7 linked regions of the Homo sapiens genome follow. The protein of the gene in region 4 purifies or fractionates together with the protein of the main gene of each other region. This does not show direct contact. Each region holds a gene or a part of one and is shown on either strand. Other genes may lie near its edges. The genes, in order: RPA3, CTSV, DNAJB4, TBC1D22A, QSOX2, AMBRA1 and ARFGEF1.

What was found.
Region 1: the proteins of TBC1D22A (region 4) and RPA3 purify together in Homo sapiens (pull-down; one large-scale study listed by IntAct). This does not show direct contact.
Region 2: the proteins of TBC1D22A (region 4) and CTSV purify together in Homo sapiens (affinity purification with mass spectrometry; one large-scale study listed by BioGRID and IntAct). This does not show direct contact.
Region 3: the proteins of TBC1D22A (region 4) and DNAJB4 purify together in Homo sapiens (affinity purification with mass spectrometry; 3 studies listed by BioGRID and IntAct, with this or other methods). This does not show direct contact.
Region 5: the proteins of TBC1D22A (region 4) and QSOX2 purify together in Homo sapiens (affinity purification with mass spectrometry, with the first as the bait; one large-scale study listed by BioGRID). This does not show direct contact.
Region 6: the proteins of TBC1D22A (region 4) and AMBRA1 purify together in Homo sapiens (affinity purification with mass spectrometry, with the first as the bait; one large-scale study listed by BioGRID). This does not show direct contact.
Region 7: the proteins of TBC1D22A (region 4) and ARFGEF1 purify together in Homo sapiens (affinity purification with mass spectrometry, with the first as the bait; one large-scale study listed by BioGRID). This does not show direct contact.

Annotation. Positions count from the first base shown.
Region 1 is NC_000007.14:7,708,140-7,712,804, forward strand, and holds part of RPA3 (replication protein A 14 kDa subunit), read right to left. Parts: intron 1-4,665. UniProt on the Homo sapiens protein: As part of the heterotrimeric replication protein A complex (RPA/RP-A), binds and stabilizes single-stranded DNA intermediates that form during DNA replication or upon DNA stress.
Region 2 is NC_000009.12:97,032,031-97,036,678, forward strand, and holds part of CTSV (cathepsin L2 preproprotein), read right to left. Parts: coding exon 4,493-4,648; intron 3,664-4,492; coding exon 3,498-3,663; intron 2,814-3,497; coding exon 2,696-2,813; intron 1,019-2,695; coding exon 919-1,018; 3' UTR 1-918. UniProt on the Homo sapiens protein: Cysteine protease. May have an important role in corneal physiology.
Region 3 is NC_000001.11:78,014,939-78,018,464, forward strand, and holds the end of DNAJB4 (dnaJ homolog subfamily B member 4), read left to right. Parts: intron 1-1,075; coding exon 1,076-1,309; 3' UTR 1,310-3,026; downstream 3,027-3,526. UniProt on the Homo sapiens protein: Probable chaperone. Stimulates ATP hydrolysis and the folding of unfolded proteins mediated by HSPA1A/B (in vitro).
Region 4 is NC_000022.11:46,796,506-46,801,170, reverse strand, and holds part of TBC1D22A (TBC1 domain family member 22A), read right to left. Parts: intron 3,728-4,665; coding exon 3,551-3,727; intron 1-3,550. UniProt on the Homo sapiens protein: May act as a GTPase-activating protein for Rab family protein(s).
Region 5 is NC_000009.12:136,221,413-136,226,077, forward strand, and holds part of QSOX2 (sulfhydryl oxidase 2 precursor), read right to left. Parts: intron 3,498-4,665; coding exon 3,449-3,497; intron 2,701-3,448; coding exon 2,595-2,700; intron 2,442-2,594; coding exon 2,351-2,441; intron 530-2,350; coding exon 384-529; intron 1-383. UniProt on the Homo sapiens protein: Catalyzes the oxidation of sulfhydryl groups in peptide and protein thiols to disulfides with the reduction of oxygen to hydrogen peroxide. May contribute to disulfide bond formation in a variety of secreted proteins.
Region 6 is NC_000011.10:46,395,274-46,399,493, reverse strand, and holds the end of AMBRA1 (activating molecule in BECN1-regulated autophagy protein 1), read left to right. Parts: intron 1-1,550; coding exon 1,551-2,044; 3' UTR 2,045-3,080; downstream 3,081-4,220. UniProt on the Homo sapiens protein: Substrate-recognition component of a DCX (DDB1-CUL4-X-box) E3 ubiquitin-protein ligase complex involved in cell cycle control and autophagy.
Region 7 is NC_000008.11:67,224,674-67,229,338, forward strand, and holds part of ARFGEF1 (brefeldin A-inhibited guanine nucleotide-exchange protein 1), read right to left. Parts: intron 3,592-4,665; coding exon 3,551-3,591; intron 3,460-3,550; coding exon 3,290-3,459; intron 2,926-3,289; coding exon 2,774-2,925; intron 2,637-2,773; coding exon 2,464-2,636; intron 1,511-2,463; coding exon 1,350-1,510; intron 361-1,349; coding exon 230-360; exon of another isoform or gene 16-229; intron 1-15. UniProt on the Homo sapiens protein: Promotes guanine-nucleotide exchange on ARF1 and ARF3. Promotes the activation of ARF1/ARF3 through replacement of GDP with GTP. Involved in vesicular trafficking.

The sequences.
Region 1 (4,665 bases), on a different chromosome or scaffold from region 4:
GACATCCACGCCATTATCATCTAAATAGCAATTACATATTCAAACACAACAGCTTCTCCTTAACTGTCTGTAACTTAACATTTTACATAGATTCAAGTGGGAATTAAGAATAAAATGAATCTTTTCTTCGTGATTTACAACCCTCCCTTTCACCCTTGGTTTACTAGTTAATGTTGAATAAGCTACTTGTAGACGAAGGAAGACAAAATTATTGATTGCTCAGCTTTAGTTTTGTAGAGAGATATATATTATAAATTGTTTCTGTATTAAACAGTTACCCAAGTGTCAGTGACCCTTATTCAATCACCCATGTATTTATTAGACAGCATTTACCATTTTGGATATAAGGGGATCAGGTCTAACACTCTGTTAAGAAATTAATAGGATCTTTTACAAAAGCAGCAGTGCTTTATAACTTGAAACATTGAAAGGAAACCTTTAAAAATAAGTCAACATATTTGTCCTTTTGGGACAGACCTCAAAAATAGAAGCAAATTCCATTAAAGTAGTAATATACTTTTCCTACTACTTCGTTTTGGCCATCTTAAAATTATATTTTATAATTAGTAAATAAGCTGATTTGACTGAAACGAGCAACTATGTTTATTGGAGACAGACCCAGCTTTTCAACAGATAGAATGTTAGGACTTTTTTTGCCCATTAATATGTGGTTTAAAGGGAAGTTATAACAAGACACCAAATGCATATGTATATATACAAATACAGGCAGTTGTATGTTTTTAAGAAGTTTTTAACCAGCAAGGGGTGTGTGTTTGTGTTTGTGTGTCTGTGTGTGTGTGAGAGAGAGAGAGGGAGAGAGAGAGAAAGGGAGAGGAAGGGAGAAAGTGTGGGAGGAAAAGAGGAGAGGAGGAGAAGACAGAAGAGGAAAACAGTCCTAACTATTAAAAATACCAATTAACTACTTAATAACACATCTTTCAGTGTCTTGCATAATAATTTCTTAGATATTTTGCAAAATTCGGCATGGTTAAGGGATTTTGTAATGGTTAAATAATTTTATTAGTTGTTTGAAATTGACTGTCTTTGTTTTCCTATCTGTGTGCTGAGATTTATCTCAATTATATGTGTGAATAATGTTATGCATGGGGTTACTTTTAATATGGATTTAACTGAGATTCTAGACTATATTCTTTGTAAATATGAACATTAGAAACTTGTTCAATTGTGGGTCGTCATTAATTCAAGTCAGGAAGGCTCACCCTTTGTCCTCACACCATCTCTTAAGAAGATAAGTCCTGTGGATAAGCTGGAGAGGTCAGATGTTGGTGTTGACTTAAAGCATTGCCACCCGAGGAGGGCAGAATGCTGTAAAACAAAGCAGAAGGAACTGTGTGGAGAGAAGGTGAATGACTGGGGGACTTGAAGTTGAAAGAAAAGTCAGGCGCTGAGCCTGCAAGGGCAAAATGAGGCTTGTGGGATAAGAATGGTTTGTCAGAAGTCACCTGTTTGCTCAGAAGTCATCTTTCCCTAACAAGGGTCTGTTTGGTATGTTCCTGTATTACAATTTATAATAACTGTTTTTTTACCTGCTGAGGGTAAGATCTTTAAAGTGACATCTTACCAGCTATTATTCTTAGCTCTTGCTTATGCAAATCTCAATTTGAAAAATAACCTTTTAAAGTTTTTTTTTTTAAATAATGAGAACATATTCAGAATGACAATGTGATGAACACCTGTGTACCCACCAATTGGTTTAAGAAATATAATTTCTTGTTAACCTTGAAGTTCTCTAAGTCTTCTCCTTACTCCCACCTCAGAGGTAAATTCCACTCTTTAAATTCTGCTTTTTTGGGGTCTCTTTTTAAATAGTGTTAACATATTTTTCATATGTGTAGTTTTGTATGTTTTACAACCATATATAAATCGAGTCACTCACAATGTATGTACAATATGTTCTTCAGCAATTTGCCTCTCTCACTCAGTATCATGTATCTGGTCTCATCTATATTGCTCTATGTATCTTTAGTTCTTTCATTTTTATTTGACATTCCATTGATGAATATACCACAATTTATATATCTGTTCTGATGATGAACATTTGGGGTTTTGTTTTGTTTTCCTAAAAACAGTGCTGTTACTGAACATTAGTAGGCAGAAGAAAAAACAAAACACCTTGATCTGTGTCTCACACTTTATGCAAAAATTGCCCAAAATGAAAGGACTAGTCCCTAGAATAAGTACTTGCAAAACTCAGCAGTAAAAAACAAAAAACAAAAAAACATAAAACCAAATTAGAAAATGGGCAAAAGACATGAAGAGACATTTCACTGAAGAGGATATACATATGGCAAATAAGCACATGAATAAGTGTCATTAGCCATAATGCAAATTAAAACCATAATGATAGGTCTCTACAAACCTGTATCAGAATAGCTAAAATAAATAGTAATAACACCAAATGCTGGTAAGGATGAAGAGAATCTGGATCACTTATTGATGATAGGAATGTAAAATGGTACAATTACTCTGGAAAATAGACAGTTTCTGAAAAGCTGAATATGCAGTTACTATACGACTCAGCAATTACACTTTGGGCATTTATCCCAGAGAAATTGAAGACGTATATGTGCATAAAACTGAGTATTTATAGCAATTTTATTCATAATAGACCCAAACTGGATACACACCAAATATCCTTCAACAGGTGAATGGTTAAATCTATGGTATATCTATATCATGGAATAATACTCAGCAAGAAGAAGTAACAAACTGTTGATATATACAACAACCTGGATGAATCTCCAGAGAATTATGCTGAGTGAAAAGAGCCAATCCCTAAAGGTAACGTACTGTATGACTTCATTTATGTAGCATTCTTGAAATGACCAAACTGTACACAAAAAATAGAGAAATCATTGGTCGCCGGTGGGTAAGGATGGGGTGAAAGTTAGAGGCAAGTGTGTGTGGCTATAGAAGGATAACACTGGGGATTCTGGTGGTTATGGAGATGTTCTGTATCTGGTCTGTGTGAATGAAATATCCTGGTTGTGGTATTGAACTATAGTTTTGCAAGATGTTGCCATTGTGGTAAACCAGGTAGAAGCTACATGGGATATTTCCATATAATTTCTCCAATCTGCCTGTGAATCTAGAATTATCTGAAAAAGTTCAATTAAAAGACAACATGATGCTGTTACAAACATCCTTGTACATGTCTCCTGGTGCACATATGTGAGCTTTCCTCTAGATTTTATTTCCGGGAGGAATTACAGGCTATGCACATGTTAACTTTAGTAAATCATGGCAAATTTTTTTCCCAAGTGGTATATGAAAATTCTATCCTTTTCATATTATACTCTATCCTTTTTAAGGATATTGTACTTCAAGGATATTATACTCTATCCTTTTTAACATGTAATACTGTGAGACTTAAATTTTTATCAGTCTGTTGGTTAGAAAATGGTATCTTGTGTTTTTAATTTACATTTTCTTGTTTATAATGGAATTGGACATTTTTATTTATGTTTAATAGTCATATGTGGTTTTTTTGCTCAGTAAAATCACTATTGATCTCTTTTCCCTGCTGTATTGTCTGTCATTTAAAAAGTTGATTCTAAGGGGATCTAGTTACAAATTTTGTTGCATTTTAATGACTTATGTTTTTCTTTTTATCTGTTAATGAAGAGACATTTTGATGTGACAGTTTTAAAATATATAAAACTTTTCCTTAACTTTCATATTTCAGTCTGATTTAAAAAGTCCCTTCTTGGAGATCAGAAAGTCATCTTCCTATAGCATCTTCTTATAGCTCTATGGTTAACTTTGGTTATAGTGTGGTATAGCGATCCGATTTTAATTTTTTTTTGTAGGGATAACCTATTTTCTTAGTACTATTTTGGATTAATTCATCTTCTTTTCTTCACGTATCTTCCAAGCTTACTCTTACATATATAGTATCTTTGGTTCTCCTACTTTATGAGGCTATTTTTCTCTCTCTTAGCCAATGTCATAAAGCTCATTATATTACCATCCTTTAAAACCATCTCAACCTTCCTTTGTTCTCTGCTTTTCTATATAATGAAGCATCAGTTGATCTTATGCCAAATAAATAAAAAATGAATAACAGATGGATAATCACTCAAACCTACCCACTCTGATGTGATTTTTGTTGAAATTTTATTGAACATATAGATTAATTTAGGGGAGAATTGCTATATTTACAATATTTAGTCTTCTTCAGAAATATATTTCTGTCCATTTGCTTAGGTTTCCTTAATACATTTTTGTAAAATTGCCATGCATTTTTCATAAAAATCACATTTCTGCTTTTGTCAGATTTATTCTTAGAGTGCTTTTTTGTTTTATTATTATAGTAAATATTTTTAAAGTTGTATTTTCTGTTTGTTGCCAGCATAGAAACATGTAGCTGATACTTGTAGCAACCATCTTGATAAAATATTTACTTCCCATAATTCATCTTTAGATTCTTTTGAATTTTCTAAGTACGTAATTATAACCTCTGTGAATAGTGAGTTTTGTTTCATTCAAATCCTTGTGGTTTCATTTTATCTTTTGGTCTTACTGCATGGTCTAGGACCTCTAGTATGTTGAAGAGAAGTGTCAAAGAAAACATCTTTTCCCCACTTTTGATTGTAAAAAGAATGCTTATAATGTTTGCAATTGTGAACTACTACATACAATACA
Region 2 (4,648 bases), on a different chromosome or scaffold from region 4:
ACGTAACCTAACCATCTTGAGGTTATGTGTCAAAGGAAGAAGACATTTCCTTTTCTAAAAAGTCAACTGCTTTCTTCTTTACTAAAACAATTTAGGGGCTGGGCGCAGTGGCTCACATCTGTAATCCCAACACTTTGGGAGGCTGAGGCAGGTGGATCACGAGGTCGAGAGTTCAAGACCAGCCTGGCCAAGATGGTGAAACCCTCTCTCTACTAAAAATACACTAGGCGTGGTGGCACGCGCCTGTAATCCCAGCTACTCGGGAGGCTGAGGCAGAGAATTGCTTAAACCCGGGAGGCAGAGGTTGCAGTGAGCTGAGATCACACTACTGCACTCCAGCCTTGGTGACAGAGTGAGAGAGACTCCGTCTCATAAAAAAAAAAAATGTAGGTTTGTCCTTCCAAATTGTTTATCAAATTTTGGTAGATTCAGGAGTTGGGTAACACACAGTAACTGGGCAGCTGATATAAAGTCTGTATTTTTATAACTACTCAAGAGCCAGGAAGCCAGCTTTCTGCTAGCATCTTTCTCCTAACATACCATTGGCACATGAAGTTATTATTTCAGAGCTTAATTATATTTCCTGACTACACAAAAAGCCAATGCATTAAAAAAAGGCCCACCTTTATATACGAATTAAAATTTATTTCAAACTGTTTTGTACATCTTTTTAAAAAATGAAAATTCAAAAGTCTTAGAATTAAGCAATGAGTCTTTGATATCATAAAGCTGTGTATAACAATAATTAAAGTAGTGGTAACATTTTACCCTTGTAAAAATGTCACAGAATTAAAATCTCAACTTGGATCCTCAATGATTCAACTGGTTTATCTTACACAATAAGCGTTTGGTCAGTTTCAAGATAAAATTTCCCCAGACATGCTGTCCTTAAGTCCTTCCTCCTCACCATCCATCAGCTCACACATTGGGGTAGCTGGCTGCTGTGGCGATTCCACAGTGGTTGTTCTTGTCTTTGGCTATTTTTACATAGCCATTCGAGCCCCATTCTGGACCCCAGCTGAAAGAGGAGCAGGTTTTCCATTTTATACAAGGAATCAAGGGAAAATTGGCTCCATTAATAATAATAGCTAATACTTAAACAGTGCTTCCCATGTGTCAGGCACTATTCTAAATGCTGTTAATATCCATTTATAAATGTCCTGAGGCTGGGCACAGTGGCTCACGCCTGCAATCCCAGCACTTTGGGAGGCCGAGGTGGGCAGATCACTTGAGGTCAGGAGTTTGAGACCAGCTTGGCCAATCTGGTGAAACCTCGTCTCTATTAAAAATACAAAAATTGGCCAGGTGCGGTGCATGCCTGTAATCCCAGCACTTTGGGAGGCTGAGGCGGGTGGATCACCTGAGGTTTCAGGAGTTTGAGACCAGCTTGACCAACATGGTGAAACCCTGCCTCTACTAAATTAAAAAAAAAAAAAAAAAAAATTAACCGGGCATGTAATCCCAGCTACTTGGGAGGCTGAGGCAGGAGAATCATCATTTGAACCCAGGAGGCAGAGGTTCCAGTGAGCCAAGATTGCACCACTGCACTTCAGCCTGGGCAAGAAGAGCAAAACTCCATCTCAAAAGAAAAAAACAAACAAAAAAACCCCCATAAAAATTGGCCAGGCGTGGTGGCGCATGCCTATAGTCCCAGCTACTTGGGAGGCTGAGGCAGGAGAATCACTTGAACCCGAGAGGTGGAGGCTGCAGTGAGCCGAGATTGCACCACTGCACTCTTGCCTGAGTGACAGAGCAAGACTCCATCTCAGAATAAAATAAAACTGGCTGGGCACGGTGGCTCATGTCTGTAATACCAGTGCTTTGGGAGGCCAAGGCAGGCGGATCACATGAGGTCAGTTCGACAGCAGCCTGGCATACATGGTGAAACCCCGTCTCTACTAAAAAATACAAAAAAAATTAGCTGGGTATGGTAGCACATCCCTGTAGTCCCAGCTACTTGGGAGGCTGAGGCAGGAGAATCACTTGAACTCAGGAGGCAGAGGTTGCAGTGAGCTGAGATCGTGCCACTGCACTCCAGCCTGGGTGACAGAGCGACACTCTGTCTCAAAAAATAAATAAACAAATGAATGAATGAATATATTGATTCTTGTGGGTCCTTAACTATTTAAGATACTGAGGCAGAACTGGAATTCCACTGTAGCAGTCTGTCCCCACATACTACCTTATGTCACATCTCAATTAAAGAATGCTAATTGTGAGAAAATAGATTCTGACAACCTTCAAAGCCTGAGAGCTGGGGAGTGAAATTCGATGACAGGGCATCCAATGACAATAGAAGGATGCACACAGACCACTGGACTCCCGGATGATCTCTCAGACTTAACAAAGAACCAGCAGAGGCAGATGTTTCTGCTTACTATTCCTTGTTGAAAAATTAGACAGAAAAAAGCAATCAGCTCTCAAACCTACAGGTCCACAGTCCTTTGTCTGAAACCCTTGAGGACTAATGTGTTTCAGAATTTAAAAATTTTCAAAACTTAGTAATAAAATATTACAAATACATAGCAATAACTCCAAAAAGCTTGGTACGGAATCTTATAATCAAACATTAATATTTCTGTGTTCACTCTAAGTAGAAGAAAGACTTTCGGAATTTTGAAATTGAGCTTTTGTGAACTTGTATCCAAATACTGATTTGGAACAAAAATTCCCTTTTCAATTTTGAGTTTTATACCTGTTTTTGACGAGCCAATACTTGCTGTTATTCGAATTTGCTCCTTCAAAGCCGTAGCCAACCACCAGAACACCATGATCCAGGTTTTTGCTGCTGCAGTCTGGTTCAAAATAAATGCCTGGGAGAGTAAAATTAATGCTGGGGTGAGAAGCTCCAAGCGACATGTGACAGTAACCCACCCTACCACCCTCCATAAGGGAGGCATCTCTAAATTCAGTAAAATGTCATAAACAAATGCCAAATAAGGACCCAAACAATATTGGCCGGAAAACAGTAATGGCTGATAAAGGAAAAAAGTCAACCTCAACTCACTAGAAATCAACTAACTTCAACTAAGTTCAAGATATTTTCTACCAAAAAAAATGAAAATCCAAAAGATAAAACCTATTGTTTACAGCTAAGGTGATTTAGATATCTCTGAGCCCAAATACCAACTCGCATAATCCCTTTCTGTTCCTAGGATGTCAGTCTAAAATAGCACCAAAATAAACAAACAAAAACTTGAAGGGGATTCTTTACAGTCCTAATTACAGTAGTAAAAAACTTTGAGAAAAAAAGGCCCAACAACTGGAAAATAGTTTGGAAAATTAGGTTGTCTCTATACAATTACATAGCCATTTAAAAATATTTATGAGAAGTTTAACATAACTAAGTATTTTCTCATGTCAAATGCAAACATCACTATGTTAAATGCTCACTCTCAAAATACTACATTCCTGCAAAGCAGGATGTCATATCCAAGAATCAATCACAGTGATGCTTCCCAATTCTGCCTAAATTTCTATAATAAAATGACACTTACCTGATTTGTAGAACTGGAAGGACGAATGGCCTGCATCCATAGCAACGGAGATGGGCCCCACAGTTGCGACTGCTTTCATCAGGGCCTTCTCCTTTCCAGGTGCGACCACTGTGAAGCCAGTGTCATTAGCAACAGAATTCTCAGGTCTGTACTTACAGATTTCATCCTTTTAAAGTTAAAGGGGGAGAGACTTGATCACTACCATCTACCTCCTGGGGAACATTAGTTCTAGAACCGAAACACTCAGCAATTTGCAACCTAGGATTTCCAAATCAACACCCTTATAAATCGTCCCATGAAATAAAATGCTATTTGTTGATTTGAAAATGAAAAATTAGTTGACATTTCTTCAATGAGAACCCCTAGGTCAATCTGTCCATAAAAAATTTTTCACAATGGATAAAGTTCTATTATATGTAGAATGGTTTGCTTATTCTCCATGTTATGTAAAAGCAAGAACAGCTGTGTGTTAACCATCTAATGGTACTTATATGGTAACCATTAGCTGTTGACCATCTCACCAGAGAACTGTGCAAAGGCTAATAATTTTTTTTTTTTTTTGAGATGGAGTCTCGCTCTGCGGCCCAGGCTGGAGTGTAGTGGTGCGATCTTGGCTCACTGCAAGCTCCGCCTCCCGGGTTCACGTCATTCTCCTGCCTCAGTCTCCTGAGTAGCTGGGACTACGGGCACCCGCCACCAGGCCGGGCTAATTTTTTTGTATTTTTAGTAGAGACGGGGTTTCACTGTGTTAGCCAGGATTGTCTTGATCTCCTGACCTCGTGATCCGCCTGTCTCGGCCTCCCAAACTGCTGGGATTACAGGTGATCCACCACGCCTGGCCAAAGGCTAATAATTTATAATGACAATACTCACGGTTTGCAGATGTAGATTCTACCATATAAAATGTGAATTCTGAAAAAAGTATCTGTTATCTCTGAAAGTGTTCCACTTTCCAAAAGCAGAGCACGAATGACAAGATAAGGAGCTCCATTTACCACTGCTACATATGGATAGGATTCCTCAGAGTCCAGGCCTCCGTTCTCCTTGACATACTGGAAGGCCCTAGCCATGAAGCCACCATTGCAGCCCTGATTGCCTTGAGGACGCGAACAGTCCACCAGATTCTGCTCGCTCAGTGAGACAAGTTTCCC
Region 3 (3,526 bases), on a different chromosome or scaffold from region 4:
CTCTATGGAACACTATTGTTTCTTACCCTGCTCTAATACCTACCTGCTACTGCCCAATGCTTAGTTCAAGCATCCTCTACTCCCGGAATCTAAGGGGTTAAGTTGGGTGCTCTTTCTCTTACAAAAGACCTCCATGCTTACCTCTGTTCTTACACTATACAGTATTATAATGGCTAGTTTGCTTCTATGTTTCTGTGAGTTCCTTGTGCATTCCTTGAGCTGGGGTCTGTGTTCATGGTCCCTATAAGGCTCACCATCTAGCCAGAATGTGTGGCATATAGTAAATGCTCAGTAAACATTTGTTATCTAAAACAAATATATTTCTTGTCCTAATACTTTCCAGAGAAATAGTTGCTCCTATCCAGTTCTTTCTAGTCCTGAATTTCTCCCTCTTCTCCCATTCCAATCCCTGCATCTTGAATATATTAATAGCAGCTTCAAAATAACCATGTCATTCCAGGGCAATGTGGAATATATCCTTTACTTCTCTTTTACCTTTTCTTTTCTTCTTCTTTTTTTTTTTTTTTTGTAACATATCTAATAATGCATGTCCTGAAGGAATTTTCCTTTTTTTCTTTTCTTTTCTTTTTCTTTTTCTTTCTTTCTTTCTTCTTTTTTTTTTTTTTTTTTGAGACAGTTTTGCTCTTGTTGCCCAGGCTGGAGTGCAATGGCACGATCTCGGCTCACTGCAACCTCCGCCTGCTGAGTTCAAGTGATTCTCCTGCCTCAGCTTCCCGAGTAGCTGGGATTACAGGCATGTGCCACCACGCTCGCCTAATTTTGTATTTTTAGTAGAGACAAGATTTCTCCATGTTGGTGAGGCTGGTCTTGAACTCCTGACCTCAGGTGATCTGCCCGCCTTGGCCTCCCAAAATGTTGAGATTACAGGTGTGAGCCACCGTGCCTGACCTCTGAAGGAATTTTCTAATGAGGAAAAAAAATTTATAACTATTGTTATTCTTTTGGAGGTTAAAGTTTTACCTTAGTGGTATTATCCTTTACCATCTGGTAAAATTTGTGCTTAGATTTTTGAGTTTTGAAGTGTTTTCATTTTATTTTATTTGGTCCATTTTAGGCATTGTGTGGCTGCTCAATTAATGTACCAACACTGGATGGAAGAAACATACCTATGTCAGTAAATGATATTGTGAAACCCGGAATGAGGAGAAGAATTATTGGATATGGGCTGCCATTTCCAAAAAATCCTGACCAACGTGGTGACCTTCTAATAGAATTTGAGGTGTCCTTCCCAGATACTATATCTTCTTCATCCAAAGAAGTACTTAGGAAACATCTTCCTGCCTCATAGAATGAAGAACTTTGTTACACATATTTTGATAAGGCACTGAAAATATAAAAGGACTGGTAGTTTACTGATGTAGATGTGAATTCTGTATAAAGATGTGTAAATTCTTTTGAGGGTTCATTAAATTGCATGAATAGAGACGGGTCAAATAAATAGGCAAAAGGGATTTTTACAGTTAGAGATAAAAGAGAAAACCATTCACTGTATTTTATTTCATTTCTCCTGATTCAGATATTTTTAGTAATTTGCTTATATGTAAAAGTTGTTTTTGTGGAGTCAGTGGATATATTTCTAATGAAGTGCTAGACTATCCAATTACTTAATTTCTTATACCTTTAGATAATCAGTATGAAAAGTTCCCATTTATAATGGAAATGAAAATTCTTAACTAAACTATACATGTAATATGTATTTCTAGAAGAGAATAAAAACCCAAGTCAGTTATTAGATTTAAATCACCTTCTGAAATGCTGCTATAGGGCTGGTATCTGTAAAAGAATATCCTGATGCATCTGTTTCACCATTTTGATTTTTAAAGTATGCTGTAGCATTTCTTAATAACATCGTTGTGATGTTCTTAAGGCAGATCTTTCTTCATAAAAAGGAAAGTAATGGCAATTTCTCTCCTGTGGAAATCCCAATTGCTTGAATTACTGATATTTTAGAATAGACTTTTTAAAATGCCATATGTAATTTTATGCAAGTTGACTATATATCTTGTACTTAATAAATTATAGGCTCATTTTGTTCTCTGCTAGTTTAAAGTAATTCGTTTAATAATAGATGTGTTTTTAGAGGAAATGCTGTTACTTGGAATTAATTTTCCAGTTATACAGTCTTCTATAACTTACTAATAATATTCTATATGTACTTTATGTAATTTCCCTAAAAAGAATGAACTACCACTACACTATGGTGTTAAACCAAAATATAGGGAAAATAAACACTAACTGCTGCTTATGGATAATGTTGCAACTACTTGTTATGCATATAAATATTTTACTTTTTCACATGTATAGATTGCATTTCTTAGGTGTTTTAATTTTTTAAATATATTTATGTTTTAAAAATTTAGTTTTGTTTTCTGTTTTATAACTATAGTGAGAATGATGTTTTGAAGCAAAATTTTTGGTTATAAAATAGTTTTCAGGATTATATATATATATACTGGATCCTATCGCCTTTTAGTAGAATATGAAATATTCTTTTAGAAATCCAATATAAATAGGTTATAATAGCCATATTCTTTATTACTTTATTGAGATATAATTTACATGCCATAAAGTTTACCCTTAAAATATATAATTCAGTGGTTTTTAGTGATATTTACAAAGTGGTACAATCATCATCACTTTCTAATTCCAGAATATTTTCATCACCCCAAAAAGAAATCCTAAATCCATTAGCAGTTACTTCCCATTCTTCCCTTCCTCCAGCCCCTGAAAACACTACCATCTACTTTTCATCTGTATGGATTTGTCTGTTCTGGACATTTCACATAAATAGACTCAAACAATATATGGCTTTTTTTTTTTTTGGTCTGGCCTCTTTCATTTAGCTTAATGTTTTCAAGGTTCATCTATGTTGTATCACGTATCAGTACTTTATTTTTTGTGTGGCACGTCATATGGATATACCACAATTTGTTTATCTTTTCATTAATTATGGGCATTTGGCTTATTTCTACTTTTTTGGCTATTATAAATAATGCTGCTGTGAACATTTGTGTGCAAGTTTTTGTGTTTCAATTCTCATGGGTATATACCTAAAAGTGGAATTTCTGGGAGTAACCATATATTTGAGTTGCAAATGGAAAATGCTTGAAAAAAATGCCACAGAATTCAGCTAATCGTATTTATTACTCTAATTCATAAATGATTCCTCTATAACTGTCTCTCTGAATGACAGTTAAAACTCCCTACAGAAGTGTGAACATTACAGAAATTTTCTCACAAGTCTAAAGATCTAGATCTGAAAAGCATCAGTCAACGTGGTGAATGATAGTGGTTTCTGTTTTAAACCCATCATTATTTATTGCAATTTTCTTGATTAAGCATTTTCTCCCAGGTAAAATAAATGATTTATAGATAGATATATAATAATCTTTGGATTAAAAAGTTTTTTTAAGCAGAGAATTATTATTCTAGTAGTAAATAAATTTACATAACTACACAAAACCAGTATACCAGTATCTCTCTTATCTTAAAGGATATTGACAAT
Region 4 (4,665 bases):
TTGGTTTTAGATTTGATATTTACATAGAATTATAAAGAAAGAAAAAAACCCACAGTCCCCTCAACCTAACAAAATACTTGATTTTTACGTGCTAAAATCTAGCCCTACATACTCCCATCTTCCTACAAGTCTTGAAAGCTTTACTTTTAAGTGTGATTTTAATTTCCAAAAGTTGGTTCAATTACAAAGTCCTCCAGAATGCTCCAGGTGGGTACTCAGAGCCTGACCCAGCACAGGGTTCCCATCAGGCAAATCTTGCTTTCACCAGCTGTCTCTCCTCCACCTGCCTACTGCTGGAAACCACAGGACACAACCAGGAAAACATCTGTAAGTCCTTGACTCGTCAATGACCACAAAAGTGACCATATACGTCAATAGCACAAAAATCAAGTGAGAAGATAAAAAGGCCAGTTCAAATGAACGTAACAACAACCATAAAAATAACTAACATTTTTGAGTGTTTAGTATGTGCTAGGCACTCTGTTAAGCATGTCATATGTACTATCTCATTTAAACTGCAAAATGAGCACCGCTTTCATCATGTCTATCACGCAAACAAGAACTCTGAGAGCAGGATCATCACCAAGCTGGCTCAAGGTCACGTGGCGAGTAACCAGTGGAGCCAGCTCTCCACACAGGCAGCCCGGCTCCAGGACCCACTCTCCCAGGTGCAACGTGGTTCTGAATCTCCACACCACCCTGGAGGCAGGAGAGCCAGCAGAGAAGGGGCACTGGCATGCTAGAAGAGGAAGTGGCCAAGATGGGTACGTCAACTACAAGACTAGACTCCCGTAAGCACGATCTACCTTTATCTCCTGTCTTGGTGGGTGACACCTCCACACCTGGTGCTCTAGGCGAACTCACAGACCCATCCCCCACACTGCCTTCTCGCCTCACCCATGGCTAGGGATGCTCTGTGTCACCATCACAGAAGGAGGTTCAGGCGCCTGAAGAAACGTTCTCAAGTTGTTTGTAATAATAGCAAGTTAGGAATAACCCGCTGCCCAACCGCAGGGGCTGGTGCAGTCAAGTCGGGGGAAATCCATAGGATGGCATGTTACAGGGCACTCTAAAGACTAAGGCGGTTCTCCACGTACGCCATGGGAAAATGTATCATTCCCTTAAAAAGTGAGGTGCACAACTGCCTTGCCGTGCAAGGGGACAAAGAAATACACTGTAGAAATGCACAGACCCCAGAGCATCTCTCTACAGAGCACTTCATCACCAAAGGAAAAAGGGGAGCTCTTCAGTGGAAAGAGCTGGCAGACGCCACCTCAACCAAGTGATCGGAGTCCACATCTTCAACGTGAGGACCCACCAGCACCACGTGCCCCCGCTGTGATGACCAAGGAGAACACGAATCCCTTCAGTGATGTTCCTGCCAAAAATTATCAATCAGAATCTCATTGTGGGCAAACATCAGACAAGCACAAACCAAGGGACATCCCACAAAATCACTGGCCCGTGCTCTGCTAAAGTGTCAAGATGGAAATGCAGAGACCGGCAAAGCTGCTGCGCCAGGTTAGTGGAGAAGACAGAGGCGTGACATCCAAATGGAACGCATGGTCCCCACTGGAGTCTGGACTAAGAAAAAAGAGGGAAAGGACATTACTGGGACAACTGGCAGAATGTGACTATGGACTGTGGATGAAAATAATACAAGTGTTAAAATAGTACTGTGTCAACGTTAAATTTCCTGATTGTGACCCCTGTGCTGTGATGATACTGAGGGAATGTCTTTGTGCTTAGGAAATATGCAGCGAAGGTTTCAGAGGTAAAGGGATATATCTCCAACTGACTCTCAAATGGTTCAGGAAAAAAATGTATATATACACACAAAAACAGGCACACACATGCAGAATGGTAATGGGCAAACGTAAACAATTGGTGATTCTGGGTACAGAGCATATGGGAGTTGTTGGCACTATTCATGCCAACTGTTCTGCAAGTTTGAATTGCATCAACACGAAACGTTTAAAACAACAGATGCATGGGCCATCGCTGGAAGGAGACACCTCGAGCTGTGGAAAGGAAGGGAAGGTGGGGGCTGGGACAGGCCTCATTTTCACATACACCCTGCTGTGCTGTGTCATGTTATAACACATGCAAGTGTTGCTGTTTCAAAAAAAAACAAACATAAGGAAGAAACAACCACCCACTCTGAGAACTCTACTCAGAGCTGTGTCCTTCTAGCCAGGAGACCTTCCAAGAGCCCTCCCCCGCCTCGAGAACACAGCTTCAGCCATGCCCTTTGAACCGCTGCTTCTGCCCGGAAACCCTCTCCCTGCCCTGGGCTTGAGCGTGAAGGCCCGGCTGCTGCAAGCTCCTATATGGCCCCTGCATGGCTCCTGCGTGGCTCCTGGCGGCCCATCCGCGTGCGCCACTCGCCACCTCCTGGCCAAGCCAGGCGTTGCACCTCTGGCTCTTAGAGTGCCACAGTGACACCAGTCATAACTGTGTGATACAGGTTTGTCCCCTCAATGAAGCAATCTCATGACCAAGGCCACATTCCGGTCCTCCCGAGAGCTCCAGCGTCTAGCAAACACCTAGCCAGAGTGGCACTCCACAAAGATGAGATAGGGAAAGGAAGGACGTGGATTCAGCAGGAATTCCACCAGAGGAACTGAAAGCAAGTGCGTTCCACAGAGCCTGGCCACGGCAGTCCACATGGGCACTGCGTGTGCCTGGAAGCAACTCGCGCAGGAAGAGTCACACTGGTGACTGTGCTCTGCCCTGTGGGCCTGCCCCTCTGCCCCAGCCTCACCCCTGCCCCCTTGCAGGGCTCACAGCCTGTCACCCTCTGATGACTGCAAGCCCCATGGTAGGAAAGTACAAAACCAGCAGATTGAGTTGATGGTCACCAGCGCTGTGCCCCCATGAGCCACTGTCTTCAGAATACTGTCAAGAACAAGGATGTCCACCTGGCCAGCCTCGAAGGGCTCACCAAGGGCAGCAATAATAAAGAGTGCAAATGGGACAACAGGAAAACAGAATGGGCCAGGCGTGGTGGATCACGCCTTAAGCCCAGTGCTTTGTGAGGCTGAGGCAGGAGGATCTCTTAAGCCTAGGAGTTCAAGACCAGCCTGGGCAACACAGGCAGACCCGTATCTGTAGAAAAAATTGTTTAAAAAATCTGGTGAGCATGGTGGCACAATCCTGTAGTCCCACATACTCAGGAAGCTGAGGCAGGAGGATTGCTTGAGCCCAGGAATTCCAGGTTGCAGTGAGCTATGATCACACCACTGCACTCCAGCCAGGCAACAGAGTAAGACCTTGTCTCAAATTTTAAAAAAAGAAAACAAAAAGGAACGCAAAATACATTTTCAAATTGCATGGGAAAAACATTAACAAAACTTGTCTAAAGCACAAATTGCTACTACCTTAGTGACTGACTTGAAAATATTACATGAAAACATCACCTTCCTGCAAGGCAAATTACACACGGACGCGTGTGCATTACATAAGCATACATAGAATCCTTTAAGATGTGATCTATTTCAGAAACAGCAAGAAATGTCTGTGTGTGTCCTCCAGAGGGCAGGGTGCTTACCAAGGTCCGTGTTGGGGCCGGCAAGCAGCTGCTTGAACTTGTCGAGCCGGGAGGCCTCTCTTTCGCTCAGCGCTGAGCTGCTGAGAGTGCTGGGGTCAGATGTGCCACCCAGCGTGACGGTGGCCGAGTGTGGGAGAGACTGGGACCTCTGCAGAGGGGCGGCATCGCTGGCACTTTCTGCAGGGGTGAGAGAATGGGGGTGAGGGTGAGGGCGCTCCTCCCGACTACACGTTCCTCCTTGCTGTGCCACTGTCCCTTTGTGAATGCTGATGGGTCCCTTCTTCCCATCACTCAGCAGTGGGGACCTTGGTTTCTTGAGCAATAACATGGAACTGACACCTTTGAAATTCACTCGCTTCACTGGCAGAGTATTATTCACCAACAAAATGGACCACCTTGCATAAAAGCAACACAATGACAGCCAGAAAACTCCAGGGCCCCTCGGGCTGTGTGGAGGTCAGGCTCCCACCAGTGCCTGGGGTGGCAGATCAGGGCCTGCCCAGGTGACATGACCCAGAGGGTCTGTGTAGGACGGTGCCCTCGGGTCAGCCAGGCCTGAGTGCGGAGGGCAAGCCCGTGAGTTACCATGAGGGAAAGGAGAAAGCCTGCAGAGGTGCTGAGGACAGAAGGCAACAGTGGGGACACAGCAGGAACCAGGGCGCTGCGAGGGCTCTCACCTGCCATCTCAAGAGCGTGCCCAACCCCGCCACCTGCCTGGCCCTCCTGGGTCTCACCAGTGCCCTGGGAGGAAGGTCCCACAGGGACCCTCATCCCAAGGAAACAAAGGAAGCCAGACAGGTGAGGGATGGCACCTTCCCAGACCCCACCACAGGCAGTGACCGCAGTGGCACTAGAGTACAAGCTGCCCGCCCTCCCTCCCGCCCTCTGCTGCTGCCCACCATGGCCCCACTGACCCCCAAGACGGACAGGCCCAGGGGGATCCAAGCAGGTGGTGAGACAGCACGTTCCACCCAGCAACCCGGGACCGGGTCAGCCCAAGGGAAGACCCTAAGGCCCTCAGATCACTCAACACTGCCATCCGAGACCAACAAGCAAGAGGCTGGGAAAGGCTCCAAACTCCTGGGTCTAAATCCTGTCTAGCTATCTCATTTTTC
Region 5 (4,665 bases), on a different chromosome or scaffold from region 4:
CCCAGACACAGACCCAAACTGCATCCCAAGAGTCCACCCAGAGCAGGGTTTTAGGAGCATCGGCTGCTCCCAAAGCCCCGGCCCAGCAGCCCTCATGCATGTGCTGGTTTAGCCACGGTTTCCTCTGCGACTCTTGGTAAGTCACCACGCCAGGCTCCTCCTAGGTGCGGGGACACAGCAGTGAGAAAACAGAAATCCACGAAAACACAGCACAGATCAGCAATACCCACGGGCTGAGAGCCAGGGCCCAAATCTGCCCAGGGAAGCGAGGCGGAGGGGCCAGGGCTCCCCCGATCTCACACCAGACTTGCACTGTCTACTCGGAGCCTCTGTCCGGTAACTCCGAGCGGCACGGAGTTCCCAGACCCCACCCGGGCACTCACACGTTAATCAATCCATGCGACCCATTTGGGTAGATCAGGTAACACGAAGGGACTGAAGAAACACCAAGTTTCTCCAGAAATGCTTTGTCCCCGTCCAGTGCTCGGGTCACCACGATGCTTTCATACGGGATCAGGTCTAAGATCACCTGGGGGATGAGAACACAATGACACTTCCACAGGGGCTGGCAGTTTCTCAGAAAACACGACGTGCAGACACATGGCCTTGCAGGGAACCTTTCACAAAAGGGCATGAAGTCTGTCCCCCTGCAGGCAAGACCCTCACTCAAATCTTCACTCTCATTGCACTTTAAGGCAACTGACGGCACACACGCCATGAGCAGAAACCACGGTCTTATTCGGCAATTTTACAAACTCATCAAAGAAAACACTTATCCGCGAATTTGCACTTGACTTTCTAAAACCAGCGCGCCCCCCACAACACTGATACTGGTCAAGTGAGTCCCTGCACACAGCAGCCACACCCCACGGCCTCGCACTCCCGTCCCGCGTGTGGAAGCTTCGTGGCCGGGGCAGCAGGCCTCGTGCTGCCGCTCCTCCCCAGCCACCCTGCTCCTGTCTGGTTCTGCTCAGGCTGAAGGGGCAGCAACAGGGTCTCCGTGGCAGAGAGACCACAGGAGTGGCATCTCAGGATTTTGGAAGAAACCCTGCGTGCGCCACCACCACATCGGGCGTACGTCTTTCCTTCTCTTAACAGAGGAACAAAACCAGCTGCTCCTCAAACCAAGGGCCCTGGCTAAAGGTGTGAACTGGGCGCCCCGCGTGGCCGTGCCTCTCCTGAGCTGGGTGTGTCTGCGAAGAGCTGATCGCTACTCTGGGGCCACACTGGTCTCTGCTCTGGGCCATGCCGTGACTCTGTGCTGAAGAGCACTCCTCCTGCACGAGTGGAGCCTGGCTGCCCCGAACGCACCAGCATGCCAGGCAGGTAGGGGAGCGTGCCCGGCACCAAGACGGTCCCACACCCGCCTCTTCTCAGGGGAACACCTGCCTCTGGTCTGCGTGTGTGGAGGCCCCGCCCGAGACAGCAAGGGCACGAGGGGCCTTGGGACAGGGGTGAGGGGTCTGGGAGAGCCACACACTGCTAGCGGTTCCTCAGCCCTCCACAGAGAATCCTGGCCAACCATCTGGAGGCAGCCTGGCGTCACCATCAAACCTGGAGGGGGCGGTGCTGGGGTGCCAGGAGGGCAGCCAGGGCACAAAGCGAGACGGTCACAGTGCAGGTGTCTGCAGCTGCCTTCCCAAGTGCGTCTCCAAAAGCCCTCGCAGGGGCAAAGCTGTTTCCTACATTCACCGCAAGGCCCCTCACAGTGGACAGAAAAACAGTCGCCTATCAAGTTGCAAGGAGGAGGAGGAGAAGCTCAGGGTGAGTGCTGGGCGAACGCATGTGCAGTGAGGCCTTTCTCTCGTCTCCGGGAAGACTGTCAGCAATAATGACTCTCCGTGAGCTGCCCCTGCACCTGGTCCCTGGACCTTATTTAGACTTGGCCAGAAGCAAGGCTTCAGAACTGTACGTGTGAAATCAAAGTATGACGATAGAAACGACGTTTTACAGAATCTTGGATTTGGCAAAAATGTTGAGAGTTCAGAATACGGCAACGAAAAAAATCTTAGTAATAATGCATACAAAATACAGAATGACCTCAAGGTGAGCTGGGCGTGTCATAAAAATGAGATCTTCTGCAAAGCCCCCTCTTAGTTTCAAACCTAGGGTTAGGCCACCTTCTGAACCCCTCCCACCGCCAAGCTCATTCATCCTAACAGTCTTCTCCAGACACCAGTGACTTTGCTGAGTAACATTAACTAAGCTTCTGATAATGAACAAGACCTAAAGCCACAGACAGGACACGAGATGCCGACACAGTGACCGGCACCTGCAAATCTCATCACAGATCCACCGCCAACCCCAATCACACCACGTGTGACACCTGGAGCCCACGCAGAGGCCGTACCTCCCGTCCAAGGTAGGAGCTGTTGCTTTCAAAGACAATAGCCACGTAATGGCTGCCACGGTTGTCAAGAAGGGAAAGAACATCACTGGGCCTTTCAAGAGGAAAAAAAGAGGCTTTTAGTGCCGTCAACAGCAGCGAGTTGGCCACCACATCCCAGTGGCCACATCACTTAATAGAAACCTATTACGTTTCTTGCACAGTTCAACACGAGTCTAACGGCCGCCTTCTTCATGGAGCTACTCACTGAATGGGGTCTAGGCGCGGGCAGGCAGGGGGCCGGCTTCCTTCCGTGTGGTTCTGCAGGAAGTCAATCATCGTCTGTCTGACTGTTCGCAGCTCTCGGTCAGGTCCTGCCGGAAGCACACCAGGGTCAGAGCTGTGTGTGCGGCTGTCCTCGTGGGGCAGGCATACACCCAGGGACAGCAGCCCCGTCCCAGCCTGGGGCCCAAAGACAGCAGGGTGCAGGTGGCAGCAACATGTGCAATCCCAATGGGTGTGCCCAATGCCACCCACAGGCGTGGTACAGACAGCGCTGGATTCACACAACTGGAGACCACACAGCAATGACACAAGCATGGGTGGGCCACAGGGACAGGCAACAGAGGCAGATGGCAAGACACGGCACTGCGAGGAGCAGGCCAGGCGGCTCCACTGGGTCACTCACAGGCAGAGCCCCCCCAGGGCGCGGCGAGGAGCAGGCCAGGCAGCTCCACCGGGTCCCTCACAGGCAGAGCCCCCCAGGGTGTGGCCTGCGGGGTCTGATCACACTCTGGGCGATGCTCGGCTGGGTGGGATCATTTGTAAAAATTCATCGGGTGGGTACATGTGATCTGTGCACATCTCCAAATATTTTTACAATAAAAAATTTACTCTGAAAAAGTTTTTACTACAATATTTGCCAAGCAAGGCAAAGCACAAAATTAAAATTTCTCTTTGAAACTATTAATATCTGAACTCTTAAGGGAAAGCAGGCAGGAAGGTCAGCAGAGGGAAAGGTGCTGACCCAGGCTGGGAGCTCCCCAGGCTCTGGGACCGTGTGTCTTTAGCAGGTTTATGAGGGGAATCTCAGGGACTAAAATACAATGCTTATGTCCTTACCTTTAAAATTTTCTCCAGTTGTAAACTCCTTTGTAAATGCTTTAAAATACTAAGAGGAAAAACACAGAACAAGTAAGAGGCAGCCTTCCATGGGCATCTGCATGTGTTTAAGCAACAAAACGCCCGTCACCTTAGAGGGAGCTTTACTCAATTTCCTTCGGAAAGTTTTCATAAATTAATGACAAACCACACGCTTCTCCTTGTCTTTGTGCATATTAATGTTTCCTGTCAGATTTACGAGGGGGCTAAGGTTAGCTCCAATCAGCATTCCCATCATTTACATTTTCTGACCCAACAGGGCTAGAAGCAAGACAGTTCAACTGGGCTGGAATCATAAAAGACACCGCTCTCTGGGACTTGGTAGTGAGCCTATGTCTTAATGGTTAGCTGTAGCGTTAGCTGTGACAACACGGAGGATGTGCAGGAGGAGGAGACACCACGCAGTATCTCTGAGTGGATGATTAGGTTCTTATGTTAACATTAAAAACTTTCTTCATCAAAGGGTACGTTAGAGACAGCGACGAGACAAGGTTACATGATGGCGGAGATGAGGTCGGTAAGAAAAGCACTGGCCAGCTAAGAGGGAAACGTGCAGATGACAGGAAGACACTTCACCCATGACACCCACGGCCCACAAAGCCAGATGTGCTGGCACTGCAGCCGCCAGGGAAATGCAAACGAAGCCGCCAGTGCTTCCTGCTGCACTGGTCCCTGGGCGAGCACAAAACTGCCTGACACTGCTGGCCCTGCAGGTCTGTTGTGCACAGACCCGGTTCGCGGCCCAGTGGCTTCTCTCCCAGCCTCAGCTCTCCCCTTGCCCGGGAAGGCGCACAGCAGCGCCGTTCAAAGCCACCAAAGCCTGGAAGAGCCCACACACCTGGCAACGGGGGGCTCTGGTTCTCAGAGTGACGTCACTGGACAATCCCATCCAATGAGCATCGTAGTGGATCTGGGCAATGTCCCATTAAGTAACAGAAAGAGGGCCCGAAAGTTTACATACAGCACAGTGTGAACTGTGTCTGAAGCAAAATCAAAATACAACAGGAAGCCATGCTGACGTAATCACACGCAGAGGCAGGCAAGCAAGTGTGCGACACAGGCCCCGAGAGGCCCTGGGGCAGGGCTGACACCGGTGCCGCCCAGCGTGGCACCTGTTAGGGCAGGACCACAGGTGCTGCCAGCACAGTGAAAACAACAGCCCCCAAAATACAAGCGAA
Region 6 (4,220 bases), on a different chromosome or scaffold from region 4:
TCAGGAGGCTGAGGCAGGAGAATCGCTTGAACCTGGGAGGTGGAGGTTGCAGTGAGCCAAGATTGTGCCACTGCACTTCAGCCTGAGTGACAAGAGCAAAACTCCATCTCAAAAAACAAAGGCTGGGCACGGTGGCTCATGCCTATAATCCCAGCCTTTTGGGAGGCTGAGGCAGGCAGATTACCTGAGGTCAGGAGTTCGAGACTGGCCTGGCTAACATGGTGAAACCCCGTCTCTACTAAAAATACAAAAATTAGCTGGGTGTGGTGGCGGGCACCTGTAATCCCAGCTACTCGGAGGCTGAGGCGGAAGAATGGCTTGAACCCAGGAAGTGGAGGTTGCAGTGAGCTGAGATCGCATCATTGCACTCCAGCCTGGGCGACTAGAACAAAACTCCATTTCAAAAAAATAAATAAATATGGCCAGGCGTGGTGGCTCACGCCTGTAATCCTAGCACTTTGGGAGGCCGAGGAGGGTGGATCACCTGAGGTCAGGAGCTCGAAACCAGCCTGGCCAACATGGGGAAACACCATCTCTACTAAAAATACAAAAATGAGCCAGGTATGATGGTGCATGCCTGTAATCCCAGCTACTTGGGAGGCTGAGGCAGGATAATTGCTTGAACCCGGGAGGCGGAGGTTGCAGTGAGCCAAGATCACACCACTGCACTCCAGCTTGGGTGACAGAGCAAGACTCTGTCTCAAAAATAAATAAAATAGGCCAGGCGCAGTGGCTCACACCTGTAATCCCAACACTTTGGGAGGCTGAGGTGGGCAGATCACGAGATCAGGAGATCAAGAACATCCTGGTTAACATGGTGAAACCCTGTCTCTACTAAAAATATAAAATTAGCTGGGTGTGGTGGCGGGCACCTGTAGTTACTCAGGAGGCCGAGGCAGGAGAATGGTGTGAACCCAGGAGGTAGAGCTTGCAGTGAGCTGAGATCGCACCACTGCACTCCAGCCTGGGTGAAAGAGTGAGACTCCATCAATCAATCAATCAATATAAAAATAACTCTCAGCTTCCTCAGGGGCTTTGAGGAGGTAACACAAAACTACGCTGAAGGAAGACAGCATTGTAATGAAGCAGAGCAGACTGTTTCCCTTTGGGCCACACCCATAGGGTACCTACTCTCTTTGCAGAGAAAGGGTGGCATACCCCAGCTCAGCCCTAGGTCTGCTGAGTTTCCACAACAGGGAGCAGGCAGACAAAACCAGCTGTCTGAACCTGCCTTCTCGCATGCTAAGCTGCCACTGGTGCTGAGAGAACTCATTGAGGCCAACCTGCTGCCTTCTGGGCCAGTGCTGCCTCTTAACTGGCCATCCTAGGCCTCAGTTTCCCCACCAGTAAAACAGAAGTATGGATTGTGAACATTTTGGGGGTTTTGTCTAGCTTTCAAGACTCGGATTGGTTTTCACAGTGATGGAGCGAGTCTTTCTCTATCCTGCGTTTAGTCAAGAATCCCCCAGCTGCTACCGGTGGCTGCCCACCTGCCTCAGAGGCCCAGGCCAGCAGCCAATTCGCTCTCTCTTCTGCTTTGTATCTGCCAGGTGAGGGTTCAGAGTATGGTGCCAGTGGAGAAGATGCGCTCAGCAGGATCCAGAGGCTGATGGCGGAGGGCGGCATGACAGCCGTGGTGCAGCGGGAGCAGAGCACCACCATGGCCTCCATGGGCGGCTTCGGCAACAACATCATCGTCAGCCACCGCATTCACCGCAGCTCTCAGACGGGCACTGAACCTGGTGCCGCCCACACCTCCTCACCCCAGCCCTCCACCTCTCGGGGACTGCTCCCAGAGGCCGGGCAACTGGCAGAGCGAGGCCTAAGCCCCCGGACAGCTTCCTGGGACCAGCCTGGTACCCCTGGGCGGGAGCCAACCCAGCCAACCCTGCCCTCTTCCTCCCCTGTCCCCATTCCTGTTTCCCTTCCCAGCGCTGAGGGACCAACCCTCCACTGCGAGTTGACCAATAACAACCACCTTCTGGATGGTGGCAGCAGCAGGGGGGACGCTGCAGGCCCTAGGGGAGAACCACGGAACAGGTAGAGACAAACGTTGCACTGGTGCCTCCCCTCGAACCGCCAAGCAGAAACCGGACCTCACAGCTGACTGGGAACTGGACATGTGGAAGAGCTGCTGGCTGCATCAGGGAACAGGAGGAGGAAGAGGGTCAGGGTGGAGAGGAAGATCAGTCAGTGGGCACAAGACAGTCAAATGGGCAAGGCCTGCCTCGGGGAACTAGAACCTTCCAGGATCTGGAGCCCGGGAGAGCCACACTGTGGGCTTAATGTGAATAGAGGAACAAGTGGGTATCTCTGCCAGGCACCCCACTTTCTCCTAGTAACATGGGCTCAGGGGACTCAGCCCTGGACAGAGAGCCTCCAGAGAGTGAACAGTCTTCCAGATCTGGGCCAATCATCCTGGACAGAGGCCCGCGAGGCAGCTTTGCCCTGTCCACCTGTTGGGTGGGCAGAGCCACCAGGAACCCAGACACCACCTCCAACTCTGAGCCTTCCAGAGCTTCAGCCTCTCTTCGTCGTCTTACCCCACTGAAACCAACAGGGATCGGGCCAGGCTCCCAGATTCTTGAGGACAGGGACTTCGGCATTTACTAATGGGGGACTACTGTGGGGTAAGGGGGCGCCTGCTTGCCTGATACAGGATGGGGTCAAGGGACAGTGGGCAGGTCCTCACTCAGGAGTGGGGGGTGTAGGCTGGCCAGCCCCCAGGGCTTGTCCACCAGTCTTCTCCCCGCAAGGCCCTCAGAGCAGCGCCTGTGGGTGTCAGTATTACCTGAGCCTAGGCCAAAGCTAGCCCAAGGCTGGGGAAGGGGAGGAGACTCCAGGTCAGAATGTGAGGTCTCAGTCTGTGATTTAAGGTGTTGCATGTGGACTCTTAACTGTACGTGTAGTTTCTAGTGGAGAAATCAAGGCTCTGATCATTTTGTTTTTAGTATGAAAATGTGATTTCCTTTCTGTTTGTAACTCATCATAGAAACATTGTGGTGGGAGGAGAGGGGATAGTCTACAGCTAATGAGGGAAACACCAAAGATCACATCATTAAAATGATGACATGCCCCTCGCCAGGCTCCTCTCTCTTATTTCCAAGGAGGATGGGGGAGGGGTGGGGATTGGGAAGTGAGGGGCATTGAACTGGGCCAGGCCCAGGTTCTCCCGGCACTGTTTCTGGTGCTCTCCTAGTGGGGTGCAGTGGACCCCTCTGACCCCTTCGCCAGAGCTGGTCAGGTGAGGGCTGCCACCTCTGCTTCATACCACTTCTCTGTACGCCACCACTTCCTGCTTCCCCAGGGCCTGCTACAGACTGGGGCCACCTTCCAGTGCCAGGGTGAGTATGTAGGAAGGAACGACAGAAGGCTATTCATCCTAATAGCTTCCCACCCAGGACTACAGGCCTGAAGTGATGTAACTGGCCAGAAACCTGGATCCCCTCCAGTCCTGGGAAAGCACGCACAGCAGGTGTCCAGCCTGCTAGGCAGGTGGAGGGGCTTGGTCCTATCTGCAGGCAAGGTGCCAGTTGCTAGCTGCTCAGGTCTCCCTTGACTGTGTCTTCCCTACAGTGGCCGAAAGGCCTGCTCTATTCGTGGGCTTTGGCTGCTTGAAAGCTTCCAGCTGGCCAGGCGTGGTGGCTCACGCCTGTAATCCCAGCACTTTGGGAGACCGAGACAGGCGGATCACTTGAGGTCAGGAGTTTGAGACCAGCCTGGCCAACATGGTGAAACCCTGTCTCTGCTAAAAATACAAAAAAATTAGCCAGGCGTGGTGGCTCGCACCTGTAATCCTAGCTACTGGGGAGGCTTGAACCCTGGAGGCAGAGGTTGCGGTGAGTCAAGATCACGCCACTGCACTCCAGCCTGGGCAACAGAGTGAGACTCCGTCTCAAGTGGGAAAAGGATATTTGCCCCAACTCTTCAAGAGCTCTAATGGAAAATCCAAGCAATTCCAGGGCTTTTTGCCAGCAGCACGTACTTTTGAGTGTGTGTGTGTGTGCCCAAATCTGTCCCTGATGCCATGGGGCACTCAGAATTCCAGGTTCTGCTCCAACAGAGACAAAACCAAAAGATAAGTTGGCAAGCAAGAAATAAAAAACCATGGCCAGAGTTAGGAAGACTCTTATTTTCTAGAAAATTCTGTATTAGTGGACTCTGGACTGAAAGACACATCACTTAGCTGTGTGACTTTGGGCAAGCCATTTGCCTTTTCT
Region 7 (4,665 bases), on a different chromosome or scaffold from region 4:
GGCTATAATCAAATATTTTAAAAATAATGTAGTATTTCCATTTTTATTTTGCTCTAGTTAATATTTTTAAATCATATTAACATATTTTAAAATATACCTAATAATTAATATATTTGACAAAACACTTGATTTTATGGTCTTTAACTGTGAGATTGTGTTTATAAAGAAGAGTTAATTTGATTAAAGTCAAAATAAATCCAAAATTTTAATTACAAATATAGATTGTTACCTGGTTCTTACATCTAATTTGCATCTATTGATGATACAGGATAACTCAAAGAGAATTGGGAACCATCCTCTCACCCACACCCTGTCTTCAGGTGCTACGTTCATATCATCGCTTGTGTATTCCTTGAAAGCCTTCAAGAAAAAAGGTAGGGTTATTAAAGGCAAAACATAACACCCATACATTCAGTATACTAACTTCTCAAAAAATAATTTAAATGCTTCACAAATAACCAGTGAGCAATTTAATAAAAAATAATTTATAAAAAATGGACACTATAACTGCCTACAATTTTAGTATATGTGCCACTGAAATAGGCAAAACATAACTGCCTATAAAGAGCTCTGGACTAGAATCCAAAAGTTAGCTTCACTTTCAACTGTCACCAGCTTTCTGCATTATTAGCCAGGTTAATTCAGGTTTCCATTTTTATCACTTAAATGGTTATGATACCAGACAGCCACATTAACCACACTGGTGAAGTATGAAGGTGAAATGAGTTGACGTATCTAAAAAGTACCAAGCACCTGATCGGTCCATGGTAGTACGGAATAAAATCTTATTACCAAATCTACGATACATCACTTTCTCTTATGACAGTTACAAAGATAGATTCAAATATACAAGTTAAATATGGCAGCTAGATTTTCAATTCAACCTTTTACTTTAGAGCTTAAGCCTATTCTCATCCATAGTCAGTCAGCTTCAGTATTACACAGCACAGACAGACAAGATGCACTGTAGGGAATGGTTAGAAACACAGGCTGGGGCTCAAACCCTAGTTCTACTTTACTAGCCCTGAAACTATGGGCACATTTTAAAATTTCTCTGTGCCTCAGTTTCTTTGTCTGTATGGGGCTATAACACTATCTACCCCATAAAGCCATTAGAAGATTAAACAAGTTAATACAAGTTAATGAAAAACACTCAGAAAAATACCTGACACTTTCAATAATGGTTAGTTATAATCACTAACCATCCTAACTTGGAATCAGGCTGCTCAGATTATTTTTCAAATTACTGAAAAATAAATGCTTCATATACCCTCAATTCCCAAACAAACTTAAGATTTCAAATTGGAAAGAATACTCTGCAAAATTTTGTTTACTAAATGACGCTATACCTGAGGTCTATCAGACACATATTTTGCACAATGGCGAATAAGTCGAATTGCTTCCATACTTGTGTCTGGGAAAGCTGCATTGCACGCAAATTCAGACAAACACTTCACTGCATCCTGGAAAGAATCAATGGTCGCTGGAAAGTGTTTTTCAAATACAAGGGCTAAAATAGAGAAAAATATATATTACTATAATTTTTCAATTATTCTTAGCTGTACCAAAAATACACCAACATCTAGATGTAATGCACTTCCTCTTAAAGGTTGTTACAGGTTCTGACATCCAACAGATACGAAGTTCAAGACTATCTTTACCACTTAACTGACTGCCCTGAGTGGTGAGAATAGTAAAACTTGTCTGTTTTGTTTACATTATAAACATAGCACCTAATACAGTGACTGGTACACGGTAGGTACTGATTCAACTTTGGTTGAATGAATATACAAAATTACTTAACCTCTCTGTATCTCGGTTTCTTGATATAAAATGGAAATAATAATAATATACACAGATAGCTGTAAGCACTACGTAAAATAATATAAGTGAAGTGCTTAGTGTAATACTTAAGCAAGCACGCAATAAATGATAGCTATGATGATGCCATGATTCTTGATGTTGATGGTCATCATTGTCATCTTCCATATAGGCTTAACTTATAATCTTAGTATTTCAGTCAGTCCCCCTTGAACTTAAGGGGACTCCTCCTTGAAGAAGGCTGTGCAATGTACTTACTGGTCAAAAATAAAGGCTTTGCTTTAATACTCCATGGGTCTCAAGACCATCTCCATCACTAGTTCTGTGACCTTACATAGACTGCTTAACCTTTCTGGGGCTGAGTTTCCTAATCTATTTTGAAAAAAGGGATGGACAATAATGTTTAACTGTGAAGATTAAAGAAATTACGTGAAAAGTGCACACAGTATTTGCCATATGGTAAATACTCAATAAATGTTAACTATAATAGTAATTTAATTGTTTTTATTTACTCTGGTTCTGTAGACAAAGCTTGGTAAACTTAAAGGCCATAATCTTATTGTTACTTGAATCATCTTCTGAACACGTTAAGGTTGCTTTTTTTTTTTCCTTTTACTTGAACACAGCTAAGAGAATACTCACTGACAATGTGCCCGGTTGTTTGGAATGCAAGTTCCACTATGCTTTCATCTTGATCAGATGCAGCTAGATGAAATACAGAGAAAATGTTCTTCCATCCAGATCGAATGTTAGCAGCTTGAGAATTAACCATCTGTGCTATACACCGTACAACCATATCTCGAATTGTTGGAGACCTAAAAATATTAATATAATTGCTTGGATATGCAAACCGATAAAACTCATCAGTTTTTCCCCCTTTCTTCTGTTTTTCTCCCTGCTGTGGAAAACAACAAGATTTTCCTTCTATTAAGCAATTCAACAAATATAGTACCTGTTCCGTTTCATTATATGTTCAAAAGGTCTTAAGAAATCCTTCTGGAATCTGAAGTTAGCAAGCTCCCCTTTCTCTAAGAACTTCATTGACAACTGCCTCAAGGAGTCTACTGCAAAAATAGCTACATCTTCATTAGGATTACACCCAACCTGTAATGGCGACAGAAATAAACGATGCTAATTAATATCAGCAGTAAAAATCTACAATTCTTTATTTTTTGTTTTAGAAAAAGTATAGAATAGCATAGATAGGTAAATCCTAAGATTTTCCATAAAGGCATTAAGTATGCTAAAACTATTTCTCAACAAGAAAAACAGATATTTTAAATCAAATTCTTAAAGCCCAGAGCAATCATTTCTAAAAAGAAAAACACCATTCACAGGGTTTTCTAATTTAATATTAAAAAGTAATAAATAATTGCTTGGAAGGGAAAAAGGCTCAATTTGATTACAAGGACATTCTAAACAAAAAATATACTACAAATGTAAACAAACACCATAGTTATTCAAATACCTTATTAAAATGATCTCCAATAACTTCCCAAATTCGAGACCACTGTAATCTTATTCTTCCCATGTTGTAATATGATATTTCTACTATTTTTTGTAGACTAAACATTCTTGGGTGTGTCGTGGAAAGTAATTCATCCATAGACACAGCACAGAGCCAACGGACAAAATCCACTGTAATATAAATACATTTTTTTTTTAGCTCAACATTAAAGTTATTTTAGCCCCAAGCCAGTTCCGAAGTAGAATAAATGCCCATACTTACCAATGGCATTTCCATCTAGCCTTGTAGATCCTGTGAATATTCTAGGGAAAATAAAACACAATTTAAAAAATTTATAAGTTACTGTTCTTATTCCAATTGAAAAGTATGTGGCATGGGGTACTAGCTATTTTTATGTTTTAAGGGAACAAAAAATTGGGTATTCAAATGAGTATTTTTCATCATTTAGTTTAGTAACAAGTGTAGTCTGGATGTTTCTCCCTCCCCTCCACCTCTACTCCATGTGAACCAGTTTACATTCAATATTATTATTAGGGTAAGTATATACTGCTGTAATTTTATCAGATTTACAAACCCCGGATAGATATGAGATTCTAAGAATAAGAAAAATATTAATTTGTAAAACTAATAATTGGCACACTACAGATTCTTTCCTGATTATTGTCTAGCATTAAGCAAGTTCTTAAAATGAAAAATTTGACGTATTTTTACCAGTAAAGTATATTTGATTAGAAAGTTCATTTACACTAAAAGTGACTTAATATAACCTTGCAAATAGTCTCAGTTTACCCAAGAATTGGCCAAACCACTTTCCTTAGGGCATTCAAATGTTTGGAGTTAAGCTAACACTGCCCAGCTTTGCCCATTCTTCTTTGCTGAGCTCTTTTTTTGTTTCAAAGTTTCATAAAAAATTTCAGCATAAACACATTAGTCCTCCTTTTTTAAAGTCTGCATTTTAACCCATATTCTGGGTTTGCAACCAAGAGTTTGACGTCACTTTCAAGAAGGATGACATTCCTCAACTTAGAATGCACAAAATAGGATTTGCATGATAAAAAGGAAAACTTTAAAGGCAGGAGCAGGTCACAGTAGTCATAGCAGTAACAGTAATAGCTACCAATCACAAGATGGGTTCTTTTCTAGTGTAATATCAATATTCACTCATTTGATAATCACAAATTCCTTATGAAGCATGTACTATTAAATCCCCAATTTTATAAACACAGAAACTGAGGCACAAAGATATTTAATAACTTCCTCTAAGTCACAGAACTAGTAAGTGCTAGAGCCAAGATTCAAACCAGGACAGGGTGATTACAGTCTATCCTATTAACCACTTTTCTATACTGCCTCACACTTACCTGAGCAAAAGGTAT